Regions from separate parts of the Homo sapiens genome. Here region 1 is linked to region 2. A link means that fine-mapping ties the variant in region 2 to the expression of a gene that starts in the linked region. Tissue or cell type: whole blood. Region 2 holds a variant in brackets; the other region holds the start of a gene. All regions are shown on one strand. Distances are between the middles of the regions.

What was found. PIP is the estimated chance that this variant, and not a neighbour inherited with it, causes the effect.
Region 1: it holds the start of SMPDL3A, and the variant in region 2 is fine-mapped to the expression of SMPDL3A in whole blood (TOPMed, PIP above 0.99).

The regions. Positions count from the first base shown.
Region 1 is chr6:122,785,613-122,794,706 of GRCh38, forward strand. SMPDL3A (sphingomyelin phosphodiesterase acid like 3A) reads left to right here and starts at 3,646. Exons shown (of 8, transcript NM_006714.5): 1 at 3,646-3,846. The coding sequence starts at 3,735. RefSeq lists enhancers at 3,456-3,957, 3,958-4,457, 5,561-5,730, silencers at 3,672-3,966, 5,072-5,366 and a cis regulatory region at 5,646.
Region 2 is chr6:122,757,832-122,768,889 of GRCh38, forward strand. It overlaps a transcript of FABP7 not described here. Among named protein-coding and RNA genes, the nearest start is that of FABP7, 16 kb to the right of the region's middle. The variant G/A (reference allele first, on the strand shown) is at 4,212.

The DNA of each region.
Region 1 (9,094 bases), 27 kb after region 2:
AAAGTGAGGCAAGACTGTGTCATTGCACTACAGCCTGGGTGACAGAGAGAGACTCTGTCTCAAAAGAAAAAAAAATGTTCAATTAACTTACAGCTATAAGTATGAGAAAATTTTCTTTTTTTTTTTTTTCCTAAGAGATGGGGTCTTGCTTAGCTGCCCAATCTAGTCTCAAACTCCTGTGCTCAAGCAATCCTCCTACTTCAGCCTCCTGAATAGCTGGGACTACTGGCACATACCACTGCACTCAGTTTACCCGTCTTTAAAAGCATGAAACACAACATGAACAGGTTGTTGGCTCCAACTGTTCTGACAGCCACCATCTCTGCTTCTGGTGGAGGGCTGTTTAACAACTGGATTTCAGCCTACACTCTACCAGAAGCCCAGATTCTGGCCTCTCTCTTATTAAAGATACAAAGCCAAAGATAGAGATTTATCTTTAGCTCATTAAAATGAAGCCAAATAACACTGGCACCAGTTTCCATAACAACTGTCTCCCAGAGTGAAGAATGAAAAGGTTTTTGGGTGGCCTAAATGGGAAACAAAGATGCAATGGTCTGAAAGATCAAGGGTTGCAGTGGTAGAACAAATGATTTTAAGAGGGAAGATAATTAACATGTTTGCTTCCTAAGTTTTTCTGGGTAGTCGCAAATCATTTTTCTTCAAACCAAATTCTATTTCACACTGTCAATCTGTCAATGCACTAACTTTTCTGGTTTGCCGTCTTTGTTTTGTTTCTTAACATAGTTAAGAAACATAATTAAAGGAAAGGAAAAATGACCAAGACCAAAGGCAATTTGACCAACAGGCCCTGGAAGAACATTTCTGAAATGATACGAAGGTCTCAATGATACAAACTAAGCTAAGGCTGTTTTGTGAAGCTTCTGCTCTTCTTTCATGTGATTTCCCTCACCCAGATATACACACTCACGATGACATATTTGTACACCTGGCACATGGAGACCTACAAATATATGCCCATGGTTGAGATATGCCTGTAGAGATGTTGGGGCACTGTAGTTTTTTGCTTCTTAGTGAGTATTAAGAAAAAAAAAAAGAAAGTGGAGTGAGTAGAAAGAAGGATGGTGTTTCTACCCACTAATTTTAATATACTGTACTTTTTAGGATTTCAAACATTTCTTAAGTTTCAAAATGTGTATGCCTTGTTTTATGCTTACTGAAAAACTATTTTGCAACCAGTTACTTCCAGTAAAGTATATTGAAATTGGAAAAAAAAAAAAAAGGAGTGAAAAGAGCTATTTTTATAATTTATCCTTTTCCTAGCTTTAAATGTTTGGACTAAAAACTCCTAAGTTGTTTTGTTAATCCTTACAGTCGTTTTCTCTCACCAGCTCACCAGTTTTTTCTGGCTCCATTTTCTCCCATATTCTAGAGGTTGTGAACTGAGAAACTCCAGGGACCATCTTGTCCTCCACTGGAATGCACTTTGGTTCTTGCAAGCTTTTGAATCATCCAAAAGCTGAAGCAGGACTTCGGCTGCCCTGGCAGGACTTGAAACTGTAACACAAAAGTACCTGAGACAGGTCTCAATCAATTTAGGAAGTTTATTTTGCCAAGGTTAAGGATGGGCCAGTGACACAGCCTCAGGAGGTCTTGACATGTGCCCAAGGTGGTCAGGATACAGCTTGCTTTTATACATTTTAGGGAGACATGATACAGCAATCAATACATGTAAGATTTTTACATTGGTTCGATCTAGACGGGCAGGACAACTTGAAGCTGGGCGGGGGGTGGGTGTTTCCAGATCACAGGAAGATTTAAACATGTCCTGATTGGCAATTGGTTGATTGAAAAAGTTATTATCAATAGAAAGGATGTCTGGGTTATGATAAGGGGTTGTTAGACCCAGATTTTGTCACACAGACGAAGCCTCCACGTAGCAGGCTTTAGAGAAAACAGATCTTAAATGTTTCTTATCAGACTTATGGTCTATGTTGATGTTAATTACGCATGTCCAACCCCCCCATCCCCTTTTTCATGGCCTGAACCAGTCTTTCAGGTTAAATTTTAGAGTGCCCTGACTGGGGAAAGAGTCCATACAGATGGTCGTCCATTCAGATGGTTGTGGGGGGCCTTCAAATTTTATTTTTGGTTTACAAAACAGAAAATGGAAGCACCTTGCTTCCCACTTCAAAGCCCGTTTCATGACACACACTCCCATTAAATTACATGGGATACAAAACAAAGCTTTCTATGCTGGGAAAGAAATACACTCTACAACATCTTTTTTGAGGTTAGTAATTATGGAAAGCATTTTCTTCTGCAAAGGAATTCCACGCCCTATAAATTTAAATTATTAGCTTGTCATCTCCAAGAGATCAGCATCCTCATAAACGGTGAGAGAAGGAACACAGAATACAGGATCCAGCACAGTTTCGGGATTCTGGCTTCTTTGCCAGACTTATCTTTGCTTACTTCTTTGTATAGACTTACTTCTTTGCCAGACTTATCTTTGCTTACTTCTTTGTATAGACTTACTTCTTTGCCAGAAGTATATTCAAAAAAGTTCCGTGGAAGCATCAAATCAACCACCTCTACTTATGATTTCCATGCATCTCTGGAATGCATAAAGCATGATTTCAGAACATGTTCTAATTCTAAGACCCTTCTCTTCCCGGCAGTTTAAAAAAAACAAAAAACAAAACGTCGTATCTTTGAGCATTGGTTTTCAAACATCACAATCACTTTAACATGACCTGAAATGCTTGTGAAAACACAAACTGCTGGGCTCCAGCAGGTTTCTGACTCAACAGGTCTAGGGTGGTGCCTGGGAATTTGCATTTCTAACTAGAGTTCCCAGGTGGTGCTAATGTTCCCAGTTCAGAGACTTCAATTCGAGATCCACTGCAGTATCCATAACTTTTGCTGATTTCCTTCAAATCATGATACTTCAGGGCTCTCTGCATCACCTCTACTGAGGAGCCCTACCCATTAAAGCTGGGGTAGGTTGGCCCAAGAATGGAACCGGGATCGTTGAGATTTCAGCACCCCAGCATTTTTTAGTGACTGAAATAATGAAAATTCTGATCAGGCTCCTGCTTGCTTGCACATTTTAACCACTCGCTTTTTGCCCAATATTCTCCTTGTTTCCACAATATAATTATAAACTGCTGAGGTACTGCTTCCTCGTCAAGAACAAAGAGGTTAACTTCAGGGTCACAAAAATGTTTGCAGAAGGGATGAATACCTCCAAGGGCTTTGCAACCAGCTGCGGATGCCTGGACGTCTAATTGCTCAAAGGTGTTATCTGAGACTGAAGAAACAGACTTTTCCCCTGGATTCTTTGAAAATCCCCCTCTCTTATTCTCTAGCAGAATAAAAACTCCCTGCTTTTTCCTTTTTACACACGGATTTGAGAGATCTTGTTCTCCCTCCTTCTGGCTTTTACTAAATTGAATGTCTTTCTCTATCCCCAAGCACCAGTATGTCAGTGTTTGACATCAACTGCACCACTGATACACGAGTCGGAATTTGAGCTTCTACAAGTACATTCCTTCCTAGGCCAAACACTGACGCTAAGAAATACGAGAACAGATCATCGCTAAACAGCAGCTGAAGGTCAGGCGAACTGACTCGCTGCGGAATCTGCCTTTGCACGTGATCAGTCGGACGTCTACACCCGCAGCCGTCTTCTGTCTCCGCCTCACCCTCAGGCCTGACGGTCCGAGTGGAGCTGCGGGACAGCCCGAACCTCCAGGTCAGCCCCGCGGCCCTCCATGGCGCTGGTGCGCGCACTCGTCTGCTGCCTGCTGACTGCCTGGCACTGCCGCTCCGGCCTCGGGCTGCCCGTGGCGCCCGCAGGCGGCAGGAATCCTCCTCCGGCGATAGGTGAGTTGTCCGCGACCCTTCTCTTCCCAGCCGGCAAAGAGCGCGGAGCGGCGGCGCCTGCGCACAGCAGGAGAAAGTGCGTGGGGGCAGCTGCCCCCGGCAGAGGCTCGGGCTAGCGGGGCCCCTGACGCGTCCGGCGTTGACCACGGCTGGTGGGCGCGGGGAGGGCGACCAAGGGACTACAGCGTTAGGGCGTCCAGCCGGGAGGCCGGGGCTGGGCGGGGGAAATGCCCTCGCCGGTGGGGGCGCTCCAAGGGCGCGTCGGCCGGATTTCGCCAGCCTGGCTTTTGTTTACATCCTGCATCTCAGTTGTTTTGTTCCTTGGGGAAGGAAGGAAAAGCTGCGGGACTCAAGGGAAGAGGAAGCTGGGAGTCCGATGTCCAGCACAGCAAGAGGCCCCTAATCGGTCCTGAATGGAGGGGGACTGCAGTTTCCCCACCAGCTCAGGGAAGTAAATTTCAGCGTGACTCACACTATCTTCTGTCTTGCTCGACCGAGATCAGTGGCTTTTTCTGCCACTCACCCAGCCAGAGCGCGAAAGCACCCTCGGGTAGACTCACCCCTTAGTCTACCGTGGAACTCACGGGGACTTCATTTCACCTGGATGTCCACTAGGTTTCCTGCGGGCGGGACCCATTTTATTCACTCCCAGCACTTAACACAGTGCCCGTTACAGTAGTGATTCTCTTAAGTGTGCCCTGGACCGGTGGCAGCAGCCGCCGCACTTAAAATTGTTAGCATTGCAAATTTCCAGCCCATCCCAGACCTACTGAATCTGAAACGCCGGCGTTGGGCTTCCACAGTATGCTGTTTAACCCACCCTCCGCATGATTCCTTTCGGCTAAGTTTGAGACTCACTGGTCCAGAATAGATACATTTTGGTGGGAGATTGTACAATGCCATCCGAGCCTCCAGTTCCAAAAATCAAGGTGCCCTCACCTCCTCAACTCCCTTTAAAAATAATTGCACTGTTAAGAGGAAAAACAAAATTAGAGAAGTGGGGTTCTGTTTTCTTTTAGGGGAGAGTTGTCCCTGAGACTCGGTAGCAGCACCTAGTGCTGAAACCTCTTTCGCTCCCTCTGTGCTTTCTCAGGACTTGGGAGCGCTCTAGGGCAAATATCTTCTCTTTGAAGGCCAAGTCCTCACGACTCAGCTGTCAGGTCTGAAGCAAAAACTGTAAATCTGGTTTCCGAACTGTGGCAAATGTCAGTCATTACAAGAAATTTCCCCAAAATGTTTATGTATACTGGTTTCTGCTTTTATTACGGCTTAGCTTGTGTTCCTTTAATTATGTGACCGGTTAGGGTTTTGAAATAAAATGTCTCACGTTGCTTGAGGCCACACAATGGCAAATTCACCTGTGTTTTAAAGAGGCCTGAATGAGCGCTTTCTGGGGACTCTGTGAGTCTTCACACCTCCTGTTTGGGAAACTGCAAGGTTGAATCCCCTCCTACTAAAGGGGAAGGAAGAGGGGTTACTGGAGTTCAGTGGTCTGAAGTGTTACTGGAGTCACTGGAGTTCGAAAGTCTGAAGTGTTACTGGAGTTCAAAGGTCTGAAGTGTTCACTCAGCAGTTTCACAATTCTCCTTGTTTGTAATATTTTGCGTATTTTCCACTTGATGTGACAACTCTCCTGCCTCCTCTCAGCCCCACATGCTTGGACTTCCTTTCAGCATCCACCCTGCCTGGCTACTGCTTTCTTGTTTTGTGTTTTTGCGTTTAAATTCCCAGTCTTAGTTTTCTGCCCTGTCAAGTCCTGGTGGTCGGACGACAGAAGTTCTAGGAAGCTTCACCTGTGTGTTTTTGGCTACAGTTCTTTAGATTGAGTAGGCTGGGACTGGCTTGTGTATTGGTACTGTTAAAGCAAACTAAATACGGCCTGAGAAGGACTCCTTACTTCTATATTTGAATCCTTGTGAATGAACTGTAACCTAGCTTAATAGTCAGATGAGACTGAAAACCTAACTTAAGAGTATGCACTGGTAACAATAGCTAAGTTTGGCCAATCCCAGCAGCCATACTTCAACCATTCATATACTGCTGAGTGTTCAAACTATGTTCAAATAAGGCATAAGGCGAGCTGAATTATGTCTGAACTATGGTTCATTGGATTCTTGAGAAGTTATAAAATATTTTGGATTAAAAGATTTTCTGGTATAATTTTGAGAGTTTTTCTAGATTTGCTGAACACACACACATATTTTTGGAAGTCTTTTTAAAAATTTATTTTATTATTTTATTTTATTTTTTATTTTGAGACAGTCTCGCCCTGTCACCCAGGCTGGACTGCAGTGGCGCAATCTCGGCTCACTGCAAACTCCGCCTCCCGGGTTCACGCCATTCTCCTGCCTCAGCCTCCCGAGTAGCTGGGACTACAGGCGCCCGCCACCATGCCTGGCTAATTTTTTGTACTTTTAGTAGAGACGGGGTTTCACCGTGTTAGCCAGGATGGTCTCAATTTCCTGACCTCGTGATCTGCCCATCTCAGCCTCCCAAAGTGCTGGGATTACAGGCATGAGCCACCGCGCCCGACTTGGAAATCTTTTTAAAGATAGTCTGCAGAACAGGAAAACGTGCTGTAGTAAACAGAACTTTGGACTTTGAACTAGGAAACATGGATTGGAGTGTGGGCTCTGCCACAGGCCAGGCCTTGGAAACACACATAGGCACACAGTTTCGTTAGGAGAGGGACATGAGGCTTCCAGATGTTCATTATTCATGAGTCCCAGGTTAAGAACCTGTCAGAGCTCTGTTCTTGGCTTCTGTTTAAAGACATCTTTCAGTGAATTTAAATGATTATCCCCTAATTTATCTGTCTGGAATGCCATGCAGTAGAAAGATCACTAGACTAGAAGTCTGGAGAGACTGGTTCCAGTTAAGCTTTCATTACTGAGTCATCTGTGATCTTGAGGATATCATGAAATTTGCCTTTGCCTAAATGTCATCATATATAAATTAAAGAATGTTTGTTGAAGGGCTACTATAAGTCATGCATATTCTAGATGCTGGCGATATAAATCTAGGTACTAAATTATATCAGAGGGGTGTACTCTTAATGCATTTCAGGTTTGGGTTTACTGAAACAGATGCTGAATATGTTTATAGTCTCTTTTCCCCTAATCTTCACAGTATCTCGAGTGTAGATATTGTCGTTATCTGTTTTCTTTCTTCTTCTTCCCCTTTTTTTTTTTTTTTTAGAGACAGGGTCTCTGTCACCCAGGGTGGAGTGCCTTGGCCCAATCTTGGCTCACTGCAGCCTCAAGCTCCCTGGCTCAAGAGATCCTTCCTAAGTTTTGTATTTTTTGTAGGCATGGGGTTTCACCATGTTGCCCAGGCTGGTCTCAAAATCCTGAGCTCAAGCGATCTTCCTGCCTCAGCCTCCCAAAGTGCTGAGATTACAGGCATGAGTACCCGTTTTCATTATCTGTTTTCATGTGAGGCAAGTGAGATTGGAGATATTTGAATGTGAAAACACAGAGAGGAATTGTATGTGGATAAGGGCAATGTGGACTCTGGAGTCAGATTTCCTGAATTCATAGTTTAGCCCTGTTGCAGATGATAGTTTAGATCTGTTGCAGATGATGCATGTAACTTGAATTTAATCTCTGTGTGCTTCAGTTTCTTATCTGTAAAATGGAGTATACATAATAATGAGCTCATACATGTGAAGCATAAAAAATAGTACTAAACATGTAATAAGTACTTGAATTTTAAGTATTACTTGGAAATGGGGTTTGAAGTTAAAAAAATAACAGTAAAACTAACATTGAGCTTACTTGGTTCCATACACCTTCTAAGGGCTTTACTTCTACTAAGTCACTTAACTCTCACAGTAGGCACTATTATTATTCCCATTTCATCAATGAAATAGGCCAAGATCACATAGCAAGATTAGTGGGTGGTGGAGCTTGGGTTGGAAGTCAAACAGTCTGACTCTGGCCTCCACTCTTAACCACGACACTGTATTGTTTCATGTTCATTTACTATACCCTTACATTCTCGAAATAATACAAATACATGTTCACGTTAAAATGATTCTCTGGGATGACTCTGAGCTATTTGCCATCTTTACTTTTTGTGCTGGGTAAAGTATATCTAAGATGGAAATAAAGATTGGGGTATTTTCTGCATTATGGAATAAAATAAAATTGCTTTTGTCAGATGTTTTCAAATAGTGACTAAGTGCCAAGTAATTGACCATACTACTACTTTCTTCTGGATCTTTTGTCTACCATTTCTTAGTTGTGAACATAAATATGTCATGGAATTATAATGACAACTATGTTGGGAAGAAACAACCACCAAAAGATAACTCACCCCTTTCACCTTAACGTATCAACTGTTTCACCTTATTATCCCAGCTTTGGGTTTTATTCAGTTGTAACATATTGGTAGAGTTTAAAGTTTGCATCCTACCTGTTTACTCTGTGCTTCTGGTGTAGTACATGCTACTTTGTCACTTCTGATGTGTTTCTAGTCATAATCAGAGTAAACTCAAAAACCCAAAAGTGTGGAAAAAAATCTCTTTATTAAAACAATTTGAACATGGTTTATAAGGATCATTGAATATATATATATATAAATGATGTATAAACAAACTTGGAAGCCCTTCAGTATGGGAGTTCAGATTTATTAGCTGTGTATACTTTAACAAATTTTCTATTTGACCCAGCACTGGTTTTTCAATTCTAAAATGAGGACCATAATTCCCAGTTCGGAGAGCAGTTTTGAGAATCAAATGACATAGTATATTTAAATTGCTTATCACAGTGCCTGGCACATAGAAAATACTTAATAAAGAGAGATACCACTGTGATTATTTGTTCTAGTATTACCTTCAATAAAGGAAACTTTCTTGGCCGGGTGTGGTGGCTCACGCCTGTAATCCCAGCACTTTAGGAGGCTGGGGCGGGCACATCACGAGGTCAGGAAATCGAGACCATCCTGGCTAACATGGTGAAACCCCGTCTCTACTAAAAATACAAAAAATTAGCTGGGTGTGGTGGCGTGCACCTGTAATCCCAGCTACTCAGAAGGCTGAGGCAGAAGAATCGCTTGAACCCGGGAGGTGGAGGTGGCAGTGAGCCAAGATCACGCCATTGCACTCCAGCACTGGAGACAGTGTGAGACTCCATCTCAAAAAAAACACACACAAAAAAAAACTTTCTTAAGATGATTTCCAAGTAAGGGTGCTATCAAATGGGCTTGGCTGCTTCCTAAAAACCCAATGGAAGCATCCTTTTTAACA
Region 2 (11,058 bases):
TATTAAGGTACTAAAAGAAGAAAATATTAGTATTCCCGTTACTATTTAATTTTATATAAAATGAGATAGAATTTGATCTTTACTAAGATTTATATGTGGATTGACACTGGTCCTTTACTTAGACATGTGTCAGTCACTTTTCATAGTATCCTGAGGACAGAGTGAACAATGGACAGGGGCAGTCTCACTTTTCATCCATTTTACCTTACTGGGCTTTACTTCATTGCAATGCAATAAAGCAAATTAAGTAAATTTGTGAATTATATTATCTAGCTTTTTTTTTTTTTTTTTTTAATTAACAGAGTCTTGCTTTGTTCCCAGGCTGGAATGCTGTAGCACAATCTTGGCTCTATGCAAACTCTGCCTCCTGGGTTCAAGCAATTCTTCTGTCTCAGCCTCCCAAGTAGCTGGGATTACAGGCATGTGTCACCACATCTGGTTAATTTTTGTATTTTTAGTAGAGACAAAGTTTTGCCATGTCGGCCAGGCTGCTCTTAAACTCCTGACCTCAGATGATCCGCCCACCTTGGCCTCCCAGTGTTATCTAGTTTTAATTAAAATGAGACTAAAAGACTGGGAGAATGTCTGTAAAACAACTGAGGATATAAGACAATGCTAATGCTATGTGTACAGTCTAACAACAAAAGATGAGTGCTGATAGGTGTTCTATTCCTAGTGCAAGTTCTTGTCAATCAAATTCTAAGGTATAAATTTGGGCCATATAAATAGTTTTAACAAAAAAAATCGCTAAGAAAGTTCATAATTATAGGATGACTTGAAATGTGAATTTATGTCCATTGTTCCTGAAGATAATCCTTACCCTAAGTATATGCTGGGCTTTGAAATTGTAGCCAACAGTATTATGAAGCCATCTACAATTAGGAAGACAATATATAAAAATATTACTTATGTCATCTTCATCTCATTGTCTCCACATTATATTTTATATGTTTTATAATGTTCACACTATGTTAATATGGTAATATGTGCATATAAGTTATGAATAAATAAATATACATATATCAGGTTGTCAAACTTTTTTGATGGGGTAAAACATAAAAATTATTTAGGGACCACTGCTCAATAGGACAGCAATTAGCATGACTGCTTCTAAATCTTATAGTGGAAAATGGTAGAGCTACACAATGCTCTAAAGAGTTACTTAAAGAAACAAGCTCCCTTGGGACCAACATAATATTCTGTTCTCTTCTTGAGTTTTTCCTTTATGAAGTTATAAAGCAGGGCCACTAGGTTTCACATACTTAGAATGAATTCCATGCTCTCCCATTCATTAATTTATTCAAACATACTTATGAAGCCTTTCCTTTTTGTAGAGTATGACAGTACAGAGCCTAGATGTTCCTCATGGGGGTTTCCAAATCAGGTAGCAAGAATTCTTGCCAACAATTCTAAACTGTTCTCGGTATTTGGCCACAAACTTCCCCCATAGGGTGTGTGTCAGCTATGCAAATTCAATTACAGAAAGAGGTCTGTCATTGCTCAAGCTAAAAATCTAGACATCCAAATAAATTCTAGTTAATTTGGTTAAAAACTGATTTCCAACAAAGGGCTATTTTTCTTCCTTCTTCTTTTCTTCCTATTTTTCTCCTTTTGATGCATTAAAATAATGCTACAAATCATTACAAGCATCCAATCTTAATCAGGCTTAATCAGAGGATACAGAATTTAATAATAGCTAACATGGATTGAGTACTTGCTGTGACATTCTTCTAAGCACTTTATTTGTAGTAACTCATTTAGTCCTTACAACTACTGTTTAACTGTGACAATAATGCTTATTTTAAAATTAAACTGAGGCACAGAGAAGTTAAATTAGTTAATTTTATATATGGTGAGGAATATAAGGAGGCAGGATTTAGCCCCTGGCAGTCTGGCCAAGCATACATGCTCTAAATAACTATGCTACAATACTACTCTAGCCCACTTATGATTCATTTGGAAATGCCATTTTTTCTTTTTTTTAAACTTTATTAAGATATAATTTACAGGCCGGGCACAGTGGCTCATGCCTGTAATCCCAGCACTTTGGGAGGCCAGGGGGTCAGATCACAAGGTCAGGAGTTTGAGACCAGCCTGGCCAATATGGTGAAACCCCATCTCTACTAAAAATACAAAAATTAGCCGGGTGTGGTGGCGGGTGCCTGCAGTCCTAGCTACTCAGGAGGCTGAGGCAGGAGAATTACTTGAACCCAGGAGGCGGAGGTTGCCACTGCACTCCAGTCTGGGCGACAGAGCGAGACTCTGATTCAAAAAAAAAAAAGATATAATTTACATACCATAATTGTACCTATTTAAAGTGTACAGTTTAATAGTTTTGACCAAGGTACACACCCAAGTATTCAAAGAGTCAGTCGAGATGGAGAACATTTCCATCACTGTTAAGAAGTTCCCTCATGCCCCTTTCAAGAAATAATTGAATAATTGATACTTTAATCCTGTAAAATGTTCCTCTTTGTCCCCAGTGAGGTTCATTGTCCTGAAGTCTACTTTATCTCATAATATAACCATTCCAGCTTCCTTATCATTAGCATTTGCATGATACATTTTCTTCATCCTTTTAACATATGTGACTTTATATTTATAGTAAATTTCTTGTAGACAGCATAATTTGGGGCCTGTTGTTGTTTTTTTAAGTTCTACCATCTTGCTCTTTGATTTCTCTTAGTCCTATCCATCTGCTCTTTGTTTTTTTTTTCCTTCTGTTCCTGCCTTCTTTTAGATTAATTGAATTTTCTTTAGCATAGTAATTTATAGCAACTTTTGGCTTATTAGCTATACTTCTTTTCACTTGATTTTGACTATGAAAAATATGATTGGGGAGTGATTTACATTGTAAAACTAATCTTTTATAAGTGGTTCTTTTTTACAAACAGCAAATATCTTAATTTGCTGTAACATTATATTGAATTTAAATGATATTTAAATCAAACAATTTTGATATATAATAGTGGCCAAAATTGATATAATAAAAACTGCAAAATGCTAGAAATGAGAAAATGAATATATAATAGTGATATATCACTATTATAACTTAAATGAATGCTTTGCAGCTTTGTAAAAGATTAGTACATGGTTCCTCATTAACTAATCAGATTTTTATTAAAATTCATGTCAAAGCAAGATTTATGAGACTTCCAGGTTAAAGTTAGCTTTATTTATCTGTGAACTCAAACATAACTATTTAGTTCTGTCCCTCTTCCCCAATTCTGTCTCTTAAAAGTTTAAAAATATTTTCTATCTCAAAGTTTTATTTTGGTAGAATTGTTTCGTTTGCTTTGAACTTGAATCGTGAGAGCATCTAGATAACTGCTTCCTGAGGTATGAGATAATGTTTTCCTGCAAGGTGACTGTTAACATACACAGTGGAAGACCTCTTAACTTGTCTGATAGGGTTTCTATGAGGTTAAATTTGAAAATGAGCCAAATACTATAGAAATACCAAAGAACTCTAGGACATTAGACAAAGAAGAAACCTAAGAGATGATCCAGAGTAACACTGTGATTTTCAGACCATTACTTATATGCTAAAGAAGTTAGGTTATCTAAAGATATACCCTGTGTTTTGAAACTGGCCAGACTATATCATTTATGTAAAGATGCACCCTGTATTTTGAACCTGGCCAGTAATCTTTCAGAGTCAAAACAAGAAAATCTTCTCGTAATAGGATTTCAATATAGGGCAGTCAAAGATTATTATATTAATTGATCTAAGTACTAGATCCAAACAGACTTATGATTAAAAATGCTAATCCCTGGGTTGTAGAGTTTGCTTCATTTTGGTTTTGTTTTAATTATTTTGAAACCCACAGCTATCTTAAGGAGAGCAAAAGAATTGATAACACATACTTAAATGTAGAAAATAAATATGTTACCCAAAGAAGTATCAAATTTTGGAATAAATGAAGTCAAAACCTCATGGCCTCTAAATGAGAAGACTTCATAAAATAATAATTTAATCCTTTCTGAAAAAGAAATCAATTTTAACTCAATTCTTTTCTGTTTTTCAAGTTTTGAAAAGAAGATGTTCAAATTGAGGCAACAATTAATAGCCTACCAACCAAAAATGGTCCAGGACCAGACGGATTCACAGCCAAATTCTACCAGAGGTACAAAGAAGAGCTGTTACCATTCCTTCTGAAACTATTCCAATCAATAGAAAAAGAGGGAATCCTCCCTAACTCATTTTATGA[G/A]GCCAGCGTCATCCTGATACCAAAGCTTGGCAGAGACACAACAAAAAAAGAGAATTTTAGACCAATATCCCTGATGAACACTGATGCAAAAATCCTCAATAAAATACTGGCAAACTGAATCCAGCAGCACATCAAAAAGCGTATCCACCATGATCAAGTGGGCTTCATCCCTGGGATGCAAGTCTGGTTCAACATACACAAATCAATAAACATAATCCATCATATAAAGAGAACCAATGGCAAAAACTACATGATTATCTCAATAGATGCAGAAAAGGCCTTTGACAAAATTCAACAGCCCATCATGCTAAAAACTCTCAATGAACTAGATATTGATGGGACATATCTCAAAATAATAAGAGCTATTTATGACAAACCCACAGCCAATATCATACTGAATGGGCAAAAACTGGAAGCATTCCCTTTGAAAACTGGCACAAGACAGGGATGGCCTCTCTCACCACTCCTATTCAACATCGTGTTGGAAGTTCTTGCCAGGGCAATCAGGCAGGAGAAAGAAATAAAGGGTATTCAGTTAGGAAAAGAGGAAGTCAAATTGTCCCTGTTTGCAGATGACATGATTGTATATTTAGAAAACCCCATCGTCTCAGCCCAAAATCTCCTTAAGCTGATAAGCAACTTTAGCAAAGTCTCAGGATACAAAATCAATGTGCAAAAATCACAAGCATTTCTATACACAAATAACAGACAAACAGAGAGCCAAATCATGAGTGAACTCCCATTCACAATTGCTTCAAAGAGAATAAAATACCTAGGAATCCAACTTAAAAGGGATGTGAAGGACTTCTTCAAGGGGAACTACAAACCACTGCTCAATGAAATAAAAGAGGACAAAAATGGAAGAACATTCCATGCTCATGGGTAGGAAGATGCTATATAGTGAAAATGGCCATACTGCCCAAGGTAATTTCCAGATTCATTGCCATCCCCATCAAGCTACCGATGACTTTCTTCACAGAATTGGAAAAAAACTACTTTAAAGTTCATATGGAACCAAAAAAGAGACCACATTGCCAAGACAATCCTTAGGAAAAAGAACAAAGCTGGAGATACCATGCTACCTGACTTCAAACTATACTATAAGGGTACAGTAACCAAAACAGCATGGTACTGGTACCAAAACAGATATATAGATCAATGGAACAGAACAGAGCCCTCAGAAGTAATTCCACACATCTACAACCATCTGATCTTTGACAAACCTGACAAAAACAAGAAATGGGGAAAGGATTCCCTATTTAATAAATGGTGCTAGGAAAACTGGCTAGCCATATGTAGAAAGCTGAAACTGGATCCCTTCCTTACACCTTATACAAAAATTAATTCAAGATGGATTAAAGACTTAAATGTTAGACCTAAAACCATAAAAACCCTAGAAGAAAACCTAGGCAACACCATTCAGGACATAGGCATGGGCAAGGACTTCATGACTAAAATACCAAAAGCAATGGCAACAAAAGCCAAAATAGACAAATGGGATCTAATTAAACTAAAGAGCTTCTGCACGGCAAAAGAAACTACCATCAGAGTGAACAGCCAACCTACAGAATGGGAGAAAATTTTTGCAATCTACCCATCTGACAAAGGGCTAATATCCAGAATCTACAAGGAATGTAAACAAATTTACAAGAAAAAAATCAAACAACCCCATCAACAAGTGGGTGAAGGATATGAACAGACACTTCTCAAAAGAAGACATTTATGCAGCCAACAGACAAATGAAAAAATGCTCATCATCACTGGTCATCAGAGAAATGCAAATCAAAACCACAATGAGGTACCATCTCACACCAGTTAGAATGGCAATCATTAAAAAGTCAGGAAACAACAGGTGCTGGAGAGGATGTGGAGAAATAGGAACACTTTTACCCTGTTAGTGGTAGTGTAAACTAGTTCAACCATTGTGGAAGACAGGAAGGCGATTCCTCAAGGATCTAAACCTAGAAATACCATTTGACCCAGTGATCCCATTACTGGGTATATACCCAAAGGATTATAAATCATGCTACAAAGACACATGCACACGTATGTTTATTGTGGCACTATTCACAATAGCGAAGACTTGGAACTAACCCAAATGTCCATCAATGATAGACTGGATTCAGAAGATGTGGCACGTATACACCATGGAGTACTATGCAGCTATAGAAAAGGATGAGTTCATGTCCTTTGTAGGGACATGGATGAAGCTGGAAGCCATTATTCTGAGCAAATTATTGCAAGGACAGAAAACCAAACACTTCATGTTCTCACTTATAGGTGGGAATTGAACAATGAGAACACTTGGACACAGGAAGGGGAACATCACACACCAGGGCCTGTCATGGGGTGGGGGGAGTGGGGAGGGATGGCATTAGGAGAAATACATAATGTAAATGACGAGTTAATGGGTGCAGCACACCAACATGGCACATGTATACATATGTAACAAACCTGTGCATTTTGCACATGTACCCTAGAACTTAAAGTATAATTAAAAAAAAGAGAAAACAAACAAGACAAAGAAAAGATGTTCAAAGGAACTCATGAACTGTTTCATTTATGACCCATCCCCTTTTTGTTAAAAACTGCATATCTTCCCTTGATGTTGTAAGTCAAAACGATGGCAATTTTGAACATGGCTTATGAAACTGAATACATCTTCCCTGCCCACATGCAAGACCCTTCCCTTTGGAAAGGGATGTGTGTATGTTTGTCTTTTCTACGAGTTGATGATCATTGCCTTAAAGTGTTTGCCATTGTTCAGAATCTAGACTTAATCCTGAGGATTTTGAAACATGATTTGACAGCAAAACTTGATCTTGTCTCAAACAGCAGACTCAAGCAACTAGGCTGTCAAGACTGTTGTATGCAATCAGACTTTACTAATTTGCAAGGGAAATATAATTGCAGAGTAAATGGTGTTACCAAGTCCACTGCCTAATGTAGTTTCTTCCTGCAGATAAGTAACATGAAAACATTATAATGAGAATGCCAGTTGATTGATTTTCAAAGAGAAAAATCTTCTTTTACAGGCACATGTAATGGGAAAAAAATGAGTCTCAGCTTTTTCAAAACATTTGTAACATTGCTGTGTGTTCATTTGGTATCTCAATTCTGCAATGGAAAAGACTATGGGCAATCATACTTCTTATGACATTACAGGCATCTTTTTCTCTGATTGAATGTTTATTGGATTTTTTCACTTATGTTTTATATTTATTGATCTGAATTATATTTGATTCAAAATACTGCTAGAATGAGAAAGTTTAGGTCCTTTTTTCATTAACCAAATCAGCTGGCATGGCATTTTGACCTCTATCTATCTTACATAGAGAGTTTAGATAAAGATAGATCGATTTAGATATGTATCTATATATATATAGCCTATTTTCAGCAAATGAAAGGTTTCCTCAATAATGCTTTTGTTTATTGCATATATTTTATATTCCAGTTCTTTTGATGTCATTCTTGGTAATCTGTGCCTCTTAGGCTATCTATTCTGTCTTGTCTAATATTTTTATTTTCACTATTCAAAATGTCTCTGCATTCTGAAAGTTCTCTTCAAACAATGGCATTCTATTCATTACTGTCTCCTATGTTGATCTGATTCCTTCTATTTAATTATTAATTTTCTTTAATTTTTTCATTACCTCATTTTATTTTTTAATTTTAGCCTCCCCACCTCCCTTTCATCTGGCTCATTTTTAAAATTTCAATCTGTTCTCTTCTTAGGAATCCTTGCTCCTGTGTCATAGAAGCCACTTCTACCTACTGATATGCCAAAGAGACTTTTTTTTCTTCTTTTTGCTTTGATCATTTTCTGAGAATATACTCTTATTCTCTGTCTTCAAGATAATGTGGCCTCTACTACTTTATTGTTTTTATAGCTCTGCCCACAGATTTCATGCTGGATTTGATTATATTTTGCTTCTCTTATTCAAGCAAAGAGAAATATTTATCAAGACCTGAAATTTTGTTACAAACAACAGGAAAGGATCTTTTTTTTCTTTCCCTCAACATGCTGTCATATGGTAACTGATAGAGTTCTGCTCTCAAATATGTAGCTAGAGAATAGGTTTAGAGGATCAGCTACCAGTTTAGAAACTGCTGTGAAATGAGTTGGGATATTTTCTACACCTATTGCCTACTTCCCTGAGGCTTTTTAACATATTGTATGCATATTCATTAGTTGCTGCTTCAAGTGGTTTTTAAGTATTTGTTCAAGATGACAGCAACTTTTATGTAGGTACTACACTTCTTAGGGTACAATATGCTACATTCAGTCCTTCTCTAACTTTGAGTGGTTGAAGAAAGAAGAAAGACTGTGCAGGAAAGAAGGAACACAGCTGTAATCACCTAGAATGTAGTGTTTCTGTTTATAATATCCAAGGAAAGATATATTGCCAGATTTCTGGTTGGCACAGACCTAGCATCCCACATCCTGGAGGCAGATGGTAGAGTAGATCAAAGACTTGCTTGTTTTATTTTAGGTCTTAAAGTCCATACAGTATTAGATGATAAAGAGCATATAACCCACCAGCATACACATTCATAATAAAAATGATTAGGGAATCAGGAATTTTAGGGAAAGGTTTTACTACTAAAAAGTGATTTTCTATAGAAAATTAACATCTAGAAGTGATATAAATAGGTGAACATTAGAAGCATTCCTGGAAAAATCAAGAATGAGACAACAATACACAGTATGGTAGCTTATATTTAAACTGAATTGAAGTCCTCAGTGCAATAATATTGTAAGAAATATTAAACTGGAAAGGAGGAAATTAAAATACCATTAATTGCACGTTTTATGATCATTTACATTGAAAAATATTCTACAAATTGTTACAAATAATAGAATAGTGTAGCAAGCAGACTAGATATAATATGTTTGCTAAAGTCAGTTGTATTTCTATATAACAGTAACAAACTAATAGAAAATTAAAGGGAAGACAACATTTTCAGTAGTCTCAGGGAACCTCAATTATCTAAGAATAAATCTTAAAAAATATGTAGAAAAGCCCTGCAGGGGAAATTATAAAACATTATTATGCAATATTAATGACTACATATGTAAAAAAGTATATCATTTTCATGACTAGGAAGTCAATATCATAGAAGTATCAATTCTTCCAGATCAATATATAAAATAGATATGATTCCAATGTAAAAACATAATTTTTTATGGATGATAATAAAATGATAGTACCATATATACATATATTAAGGGCCATAAATAGGATATTTCTGAAGAAGAGTAACAAATTGGGAGACTTGCTTTTCCGGTTATTAGGACTGTCATGAGGCTATAAAAATTGACAGCTTAGCAATGTTAGAAGGTTACAAACCTAATTGATTAGTGGAATTAAAGAGGGTTCAGAGAAATATATTAAAATACATAGAGGACTTCGGTAAATCACAGAGATGGTATTCCATTTAGGTGGTGAAATGTTCAATAAGTGGATTGGAAAAAATTATTATCTACATATTCAAAAGTGAATTTAAAACCCTACTTCTTATGATATACAAAAATCTACTCCAGCAAGTTAACGGTTCAAATGTTAAAACTTTAAATCACTTGGTGGCCAGGCATAGTGGCTAATGCCTGTAATTCCCCCACTTAGGGAGACAGAGGTGGGGGGATAGCTTGAGCCCAGGAGTTTGGGACCTGCCTGGGCAACATAGCAAGACCCTGTTCTCCACTAAAAGGAAAAAAAAAAAAAAAAGAAGAGAGAGAGAGAAAAAAAGGGCTTGGTAGAAAATATAAGTGAATATCTTTTGGACCTTGGGTAGGTGGTTTCCTTAAATAAGACATGAAACATATTGACAATGACATAAAATATTAATAAATTTGGCAATATTAAAAATAAGAACTTTTGGTCATAAGAAGCTACTTTAAAGAAAGTGAAAGTAAGTTACAAACTGGAAGAATATATTCATGACTCCCACACTACAAAAATTAGGATCAACAATACAAAATAAGAAAAACACAACTAACCTACAGGCAAATGGGCAGGAGAACAGACATTTCACAGAGGTAGAAATCATAGACCATTAAACATATGAAAATATGTTCACTTCATTCATGATTAGGAAAATACAAGTCAAGAAAAAATTAGATGTCATTGTATATGCATCTGATTGGTCACCATTGAAACTCTGTCAATATTAAGCATTGGGGAATATGTTGATCCACTGGTGAGAGTATAAATTGGTGAGTCCACTTTAGAAAACAATTTGGCATAACCTTCTAAAACTGAAGATTAACCTATGACCAATCAATGATCCATCAATTTCAATTCAAACTATGTGCCCAAAATAAACTATTGCACATGTAAAAAAGTTAATTCCTAGCATATTACATAACAATGTAAAACATTTTATGAAGATTACATTGGTATATATGTTTTAAGAAAATATGTAGATGCACTGAACTAAATAAAAGCAAAAAAGCAAGTGATGAGCATGAGATTCAGGAAGATGTTTACCTTGAGTTGGAGAAAGTAAGGAAATGGATGCAGGAATGTTTTCAAAGTCCTAGGCTTTGTTTCGAAAGGAGGATTCACATGTGGGTGTTTATTACATTAGTGAAAATAATTATGTAATTAGCCAAATAAATGAAAATTGGACCAACATGGACAAGTGATAAGATTATGACACTAACCAACGGGTATGATTAATTTAACTTTGTGCCCCCAGATAATCAGAATTTTCTCTTAGAGAAGGAGCTGTATTATATTAGAAAATACTTTAATAAGCAATTAGTACTGAGGTCATGGATTAACAGGTGTCAAAGAAATAAAAGAGATGGCTACATTACTCTAGATTAGAAATGAATAGGGAT